2 linked regions of the Homo sapiens genome follow. The protein of the gene in region 2 purifies or fractionates together with the protein of the main gene of each other region. This does not show direct contact. Each region holds a gene or a part of one and is shown on either strand. Other genes may lie near its edges.

Evidence for each region.
Region 1: the proteins of NRIP3 (region 2) and DDI2 purify together in Homo sapiens (affinity purification with mass spectrometry; 2 studies listed by BioGRID and IntAct, with this or other methods). This does not show direct contact.

The regions. Positions count from the first base shown.
Region 1 is NC_000001.11:15,627,355-15,631,107, reverse strand, and holds part of DDI2 (protein DDI1 homolog 2), read right to left. Parts: intron 784-3,753; coding exon 547-783; intron 1-546. UniProt on the Homo sapiens protein: Aspartic protease that mediates the cleavage of NFE2L1/NRF1 at 'Leu-104', thereby promoting release of NFE2L1/NRF1 from the endoplasmic reticulum membrane.
Region 2 is NC_000011.10:8,997,333-9,001,085, reverse strand, and holds part of NRIP3 (nuclear receptor-interacting protein 3), read left to right. Parts: intron 1-3,753.

The DNA.
Region 1 (3,753 bases), on a different chromosome or scaffold from region 2:
ACTTTGGGAGGCCGAGGCAGGCGGATCACGAGGTCAGGAGATCGAGACCATCCTGGCTAACACGGTGAAACCCCGTCTCTAATAAAAATACAAAAAATTAGCCAGGTGTGGCAGCATGCGCCTGTAGTCCCAGCTACTTGGGAGGCTGAGGCAGGAGAATGGCATGAACCCGGGAGGCGGAGCTGGCAGTGAGCCAAGATTGCACCACTACACTCCAGCCTGGGCGAAAGAGCAAGACTCCGTCTCAAAGAAAAAACAAAGAAACAAACAAAAATCAGTACCTAGGTTATCTGCTGCCAAAAACAATGAGGAAAACAAAAAGTAAACCAAGGGGGGTGGCCTAGATGGATTTCACTGCTAAAACTCTATTGCTGTTTCCAAGTAACTCAGCCTTTGACTTTAGCACTAATTTACCTCTCACAGAGAAAAAACTGGTATGTTCAATAAATCATGTGACACAGTGTCGCTTGAGTCTCTTCACATTTGCTATGACACAGCTTCTTCACCTCAGGCCAGCCTAATAGCCTTCCAAATTTATAAGCTTACCAAGGTCTCCACTGAGCAGAGCTTCTGCCAGGGGTGGATTGCGTTCCTTCAGCAAGGACAGCTCATGCGGGTTGGCCAGCAACATATCTCGGAGCAAGGCTGGATTGTCCAAGCCCTGAGGAGATGAAGTTATTTCTCCAGGAGATGAGTGGGACTGCTGTGTTCCTGGTGGCTGGCGCTGCCGGGGACTTGATGTGCCAGGCACAGCTATACTACTGAAATCTATTCGGGGTAAGTCTGTTGGGGAAAATCAATTCAGTTTACTCAAATTACTCTACAAAAACAAGCACTTGAAGGAAACAGCAGAACACTTGCTCATACATGGTATATGACAGCAGCAAAGGTAACTGTAGACTTTAACCTTGTTCTTTCTCATGATGACTCTGAATATAAAGACTGCCGGCTGAGAGTGAATCGATAGAAGAAGAAAAATAGGGGGAAGGTGATGGTAGTAACTCCAAATTTTTAGCTTATAAAATATCTCACAATAGACATCAGGTTTTTAATTTATGTTTTTAAATCATTAAAGTGGCCAGGCGTGGTGGCTCACACCTGTAATCCCAGCACTTTGGGAGGTCAAGGTGGCTGGATCACCTGAGGTCAGAAGTTCAAGACCAGCCTGGTCAACATAGTGAAACTCTGTCTCTACTAAATATACAAAAATTAGCTGGGCGTGGTCGCAGTCACCTGTAATCCCAGCTACGCAGGAGGCTGAGGCAGAAGAATCACCTGAACCCGGGAGGTGGAGGTTGCAGTGAGCCGAGATGGCGCCATTGCACTCCAGCCCAGGCAACAAGAGCGAAACTTCATCTCAAAAGAAAAAAAAAAAAAAAAATTAAAGCTAGTTTCAATAAATATAATTGCATAAGTCTGGATGTTGTTCTTGAGAAAAATCCTACTCTGGTCTGACATATGGTTCAAACAGCCTTGACGCTTGGATTAAAGAATTTTTTTTTTTTTTTTTTGACACGGAGTCTTGCCTTGTTGCCCAGATTGGAGTGCAATGGCACGATCTTGCCTCACTGCAACCTCTGCCTCCTGGGTTCAAGTGATTCTCCTGCCTCAGCCTCCCGAGTAGCTGGGATTACAGGCGTGTGCCACTACGCCCAGCTAATTTTTTGTATTTTTAGTAGAGATGGGATTTCACCATGTTGGCCAGGCTGGTCTCGAAATCCTGACCTCAGGTGATCCACCCACCTCAGCCTCCCAAAGTGCTGGGATTATAAGTGTGAGCCACTGTGCCCGGCCGGATCAAAGGATATTATATATGTCAAGTGAGCAGCATAAATATTAGATGCTAAATTCTGCAAGTCAGTGCTAAACGTATTGGCTCAGGGAAGTTCTTAATAGTTCTCTGAATTTATACTTTAATCTGTGCATCTCTGCTAACTCTTCTCATGCCCTTGGGGAGCTAAACAGTGTCATCATTTTATAGAAAAGAAAGAAGAAAAGGGACTTGCATAGGTTCTCAGTGCTGAATACACCAAAAGCTACCACAGTTTAGAAGCTACAACTCCCAGGTTCTATATGCCAGGTGGAACTGACCTTACTAAAATGAAAGGAAGATAAAAGGGAATTTTAATCCTTACACAACGGACTCACATATTGTATGACCCCATTTATATGAAATGTTCCAAATAGGTAAATACATAGAGACAGAAAGTAGACTTGTAGTTGTCTAGGCTGCGGAGACTAGGGGGAAATGGGAAATGACTATAAATGGGTATAGGATTTCTTTTTAAGGTAATGAAAATACGCTAAAATGGATTGTGGTGATGGTTACACAACTCATGAATATAGTAAAAAAAAATCATTTAAATGCATGAATTCTATCTCAATAAAACTGTTATTTAAAAAAGAAAAATGAAAAAGAGAAAAGTAAACAAGGAGAGCCAGAATGAGGGGCTAGGCCTGAGTCAATCGACATTCCTTCAACTCCAAAAAATATAGTTGATGGTCAAACTTGTCTGAACAACTGAATACTTTTCTTAAGGATAACTGTGCTTAATGTTATAAATGACAGTACACTAAGCAATTCCACAGTGATCAGAATTATAGCACAATCCTTGCACTATTAAGGATTTTAAATAAACTAAAAAATCAAAAAACAAACAAACTTGTCTCAAGTCTGGGACTATCCTGAAGCCTTTTTGGACCTCAGATAGAAAAAGAGAATGCTTAAACTCATGATGTAACATTTCTACCCTTTAGCAGGGGTTCAACTAGCCACTTTCTTCAACTCCCAACCAAGGAAATGGTGAAGTGAAGAGGATGATCTCTGTGAGGTAGTTAATCTATACCAGCCAGAAAAACATATATGGGTGGGCCCTCTTTGCAGGTCAAGAAATTTTATCTCCACTCCTGTTATACATTATCTTGAGAGTCCATTCACTTCAGAATAATTCTCAAAAACATGTTTACTTAATAGACCAGATCACTCCTGCCCCAACCTGTTACAGGCTCTCTTGTCCATAAACAACAATGCAGAGGAAAAAAAAAAAGAAGTAAATTCCGGAATTAATAATCTCATCAAATTAACCAAAGGAAGATGTGGTTTTTACTGATTGTCATAGTTGTTTAAATACGTTTAACTTCTTCAGAAAGAAGTTTTAACTTCTTTCTAAAGTTTAACTGTGGCCCCAAGGGACTAATGTCTTCCAGATCTGGTGGAGCCGGTCCTTGATGGTCTCAGTAAGTTCCAGTTTCAGGCTGAATGGAAACACTGTGGTTAAAACTGCAGTCAGTCTGTCATCACCCAGACTCTGCCAGCATCTGTCACCATAAACTTTAAAACTGGTGACCTACAGGCTAAACACTATTTAAGAAAATCTATCTGAATATGGCAGCGAATGGAAAAAAACCACACATTTCACCAAGCTGTTTCACATTAAGACCTTATAATCATTTTGTGGATCATGAGCCACTTCAAGTATCTGAACAAAGCTATGACCCTCTCTCTATCCAGTGCACACACACATTCACATCCACACAATTCTGCATATTATTTCAGTGACATAGAACCTACTAAATCCCAATGCACAGAGTTCAGACTATAAACATCTATTATAAAAGCAGCATCAAAGATAGATAAACGTTTCTTTGTATGTGATTAACACAGCTGGTAGGAAAGAACCACAACTTGGTGGTCAAGCTGCTTAATGTTTATCAAGTTCAGCATAATGGAAAAAGCATCAAATTTTAATTCCT
Region 2 (3,753 bases):
TATTTGATTTTTTTTTTAAGAGACGGGTTCTCACTCTATTGCCCAGGCTGGAATGCAGCTGCAGTCACATCTTACTGCAGCCTCGACCTCGCAGGCTCAAGAGATCCTCCCACCTCAACCTCCTGAGTAGCTAGGATTACAGGTGCACACCACAACACCAATCTAACTTTTGTATTTTTTGTAGAGATGGGATTTTGCCATATTGCCCAGGCTGGTCTTGAACTCCTGGTCTCAAGCGATCTGCCCACTTTAGCCTCCCAAAGTGCTGGGATTACAAACATGAGCTACCACACCCAGCCCTGATTTTTTTTTTTAACTCAGTGAAGCTGGAGAAAAACATCTCCGTTCTTGGAAATTTGCCTATTGTAATTTATCTTGTTTTAGCTACCAGGTTCATAAAAGTTTTTCTCATTGTGCTAAGGACTTTTTAATTTTTAAAAACAGTCATGTTATGTGGTAATATGCTGTCTTTCCTAAATGATATTATACTTACCTGTAGGCATTAGGCCATATTCTTACTTGTCTGGCAATAGAGTTTTTCTTTCCTACATATGATTGCTTCTGATCATAGCTAAATGCTTTTTCAAAACTGACTAGAATTAGGAATGATGCTGGGGGAAAGATGGTTGAACACAGTAAAGCAAACTTACCATAAAATACCTGAACAGAATCTCTGTCTATTAGAGCAGGTCTGTGTGGTGTGCCCTATAGATTAGCTATCCATATCACCACAAATCATGGGCTGGAGAATTTCAGAGGCTTAGAAGAGAAGCGTGAAATACCAGTATAACACCAAGATCTGGCACAAACTGAAGATTTGCAGAGTCGTGATTGCATCCTCGTAATAGCAAACATTATTTGAATACTTGCTGTGTTCAGGACACAGTCTAGGGGCTAAGACACAAATAGGAAGACAGAAAAGTTTCTCATTATAAACAGGTTTATAGGTTGGGGGCAGGGAAGGACAGATCAGTTAATTTAATATACAAATATTTATTGAGTACCTACTACACATGTCATGCAATAATTTAAGCTTTGGAGATATAATAGTGAACCAAAACTGAGTTCCTGCCTTGACGGAACTTTCATTCTTGTGGGAGGAAGGAGGCAGAAAGTAAAATTAAGTAAATGTATATAAGGTAATAATAATAAATATTTTCTATGGAGAAAATAAATCAGGGTAAGGGGAATAGGGAAGGCAGTGACTGGGGTGGGGTGGAGTCTGGCTATTTTGTACAGGGTTGTCCGGCAAGGCCTATCTGATAAGATTACATTTGAGGAGATACTGAAGGGAATTAAGGAGCAAAGTTTCTCAGGGAAGAGTGTTCTAGGCAGAAGGAACAGCAAGTGCAAAGGACTGAGGTGTCACTGTGCTTGATATAACTGAAGAACTGTAAGAGGACCAGTGTAGCTAGATCAAAATGAGCAAGGGGGAGGGTGATAGAAGATAACATCAGAGATGTAGTAGGAGGCCATTGTGCAGGCATTTGGGTGGTTTTTTAAAATTATTATTTTTTTTATTTTCCACTCTTTTCAGCGCATACCTATGCATTTGGGTTTTAACCTGAGATTGGAAACGAGTGGAATATTTTGAGCAGAGGGGTGATATGATACATACGACTTATTTTACAAAAAGACTACTCAGGCTACTATGTGGGTTACACTGTAAAGGGGCAAGAGTAGATGAAGCAGGAAGACTGATTAGGAAGCTATTATACAGTAATTGAAGTGAGAGTTGATGGTACCTCAGAGCAGTGTGATAAGCTGTGAAGGAGAGGAGGAAGGATCAGGTTCTGGATATATGTTGAAGGCAGAGCTGACAAATGTAATTGATGCATTGGATTAAGAGTGAAAGAGTAATCAAGGAAGACCATGAGGTTTTTAACTTAGCCATTGGAAGAACAGAATTATCACTTGCTGAAGTGGATAAGACTTGCAGCGGGGAGCAGGTTGAGGATGGCAAATAAGAATGAAGAGTTTGCGGGCTGGGCGCGCTGGCTCATGCCTGTAATCCCAGCAGTTTGGGAGGCCGAGGCGGGCAGGTCACGAGGTTAGGAGATCAAGACCATCCTGGCAAACACGGTGAAACCCCATCTCTACTAAAAAATACAAAAAATTAGCCAGGCCTGGTGGCGGGCACCTGTAGTCCCAGCTACTCGGGAAACTCGGGAGGCTGAGGCAGGAGAATGGTGTGAACCCAGGAGGCGGAGCTTGCAGTGAGCCGAGATCGTGCCAATGCACTCCAGCCTGGACGACAGAGCGAGACTCTGTCTCAAAAAAAAAAAAAAAAAAAAAAAAAAATGAAGAGTTTGATTTTTGAACAAGTTTAGGGTCCCAATTAGTTACTTAAATGTAGATGCTGAATAGACAATTCTAGAAGAAGATAAGTAACACCACCAGAAAGCCTGTGCTAGTTGCCAAGATGTAATAGTCAGATGTGCCAGAGGAGTCCAGCGGAAGAAGTGATTTCTCTAACCTGATGTGATGATAAGGATGGAGACTGGCATCTATTTACACCTTTACCATTCCCTTTGAGCCAGCTGACTGTGAGATGGTATGGAGAGAAGGCTGCCTCTAGAGTGTGCTTTGTAGAACCTCAGAGTAGGAAGAATTTTACAGGTTATCTGGTCTAATTCCTTGCCCATTTGTGAATCCTTTCTAACAAAATGCAGCCTCCGTGAGCAGCTGAGAAACCATTATCTCAGACTAATCCACAAAACAGATAATAATGAGGAATAGGTTGTTTGTTGGGTCATGAGCAAAGGCAAAGAAATAGAACACAGAAGGCCTGGGGCAGTGTAACAGCCTGCCTTATGTTTTTGAGCAACTGCAAACTGAAGAACAATCTGTGTTTCCATGGGGTAGAATGGGTCACGTGTTATATACTCAGCTAGTAAGCAAAGAGAAGGCACAAATATTGGTGACCTTTTGGATTTCCAAGGTCAGAGATAGAGACATGTATACTGGGCTTGACTCAGGAGTCCATGTTTATCTATAGACTGTATATGAGGACTAAAATGGAGTAGAATGATTTCAGGCCCTTTTGGGGTAAAAGAAAAAGTGAATGGTATCCATGACCCTTGTTCTAACTAAGCTCTAGTTGTGGCTCTGTTGCTAGCTAGTGACCTTGGATTTCTCTCTTGGGAATAAATGCTACAAAGAAAGCAGACCCCTACCATTTCCTCTGTTTTCTAGTTTGGTTCATTCTGTGGACCACAGAAATCCATTAGTTTCTGTCTGGGTAGCTTGGGTAAAGGGATTGAGAGAGTGGCTTTAAAGTTCTTGCTCAAATTATGATTCTATGGTATCCTGCACTATAGTCTGATTCCTCTCACCTCTCTTTTCTTCAAACTCTATAGTTTGGTTAGAAGAGATGTTTAAGCAGTGTGGGTGCCAGATTGAGGAACTGTAGCTATTTTCACCCAGAATACAGCACTTCCCATAGTGTTCATTTCCTTTAGAAGCTCTTGATGGCGATGGAGGCAGAATATTTGAACTTGCCTGGTTAGAGTTTAGATGCCTCTAGCAGCCACATTTCAGGAAGAGTAGAGAAGCAGGGACTGCTTAGGTTAGTAGCTGCCTTGTTGAAGTTTAGCATAAAGCAGAATCCACGTCAGAAAGACGACTTAAAAATTATGTCTAAATGGCCACCAGGGTATCTGCAGCATCCATCTAGCAAATTAGTACTGTGTATCCTTTTTTCTTTCTTTTTTTTTTTTTTTTTTTTTTTGAGACGGAGTCTCGCTCTCTCAC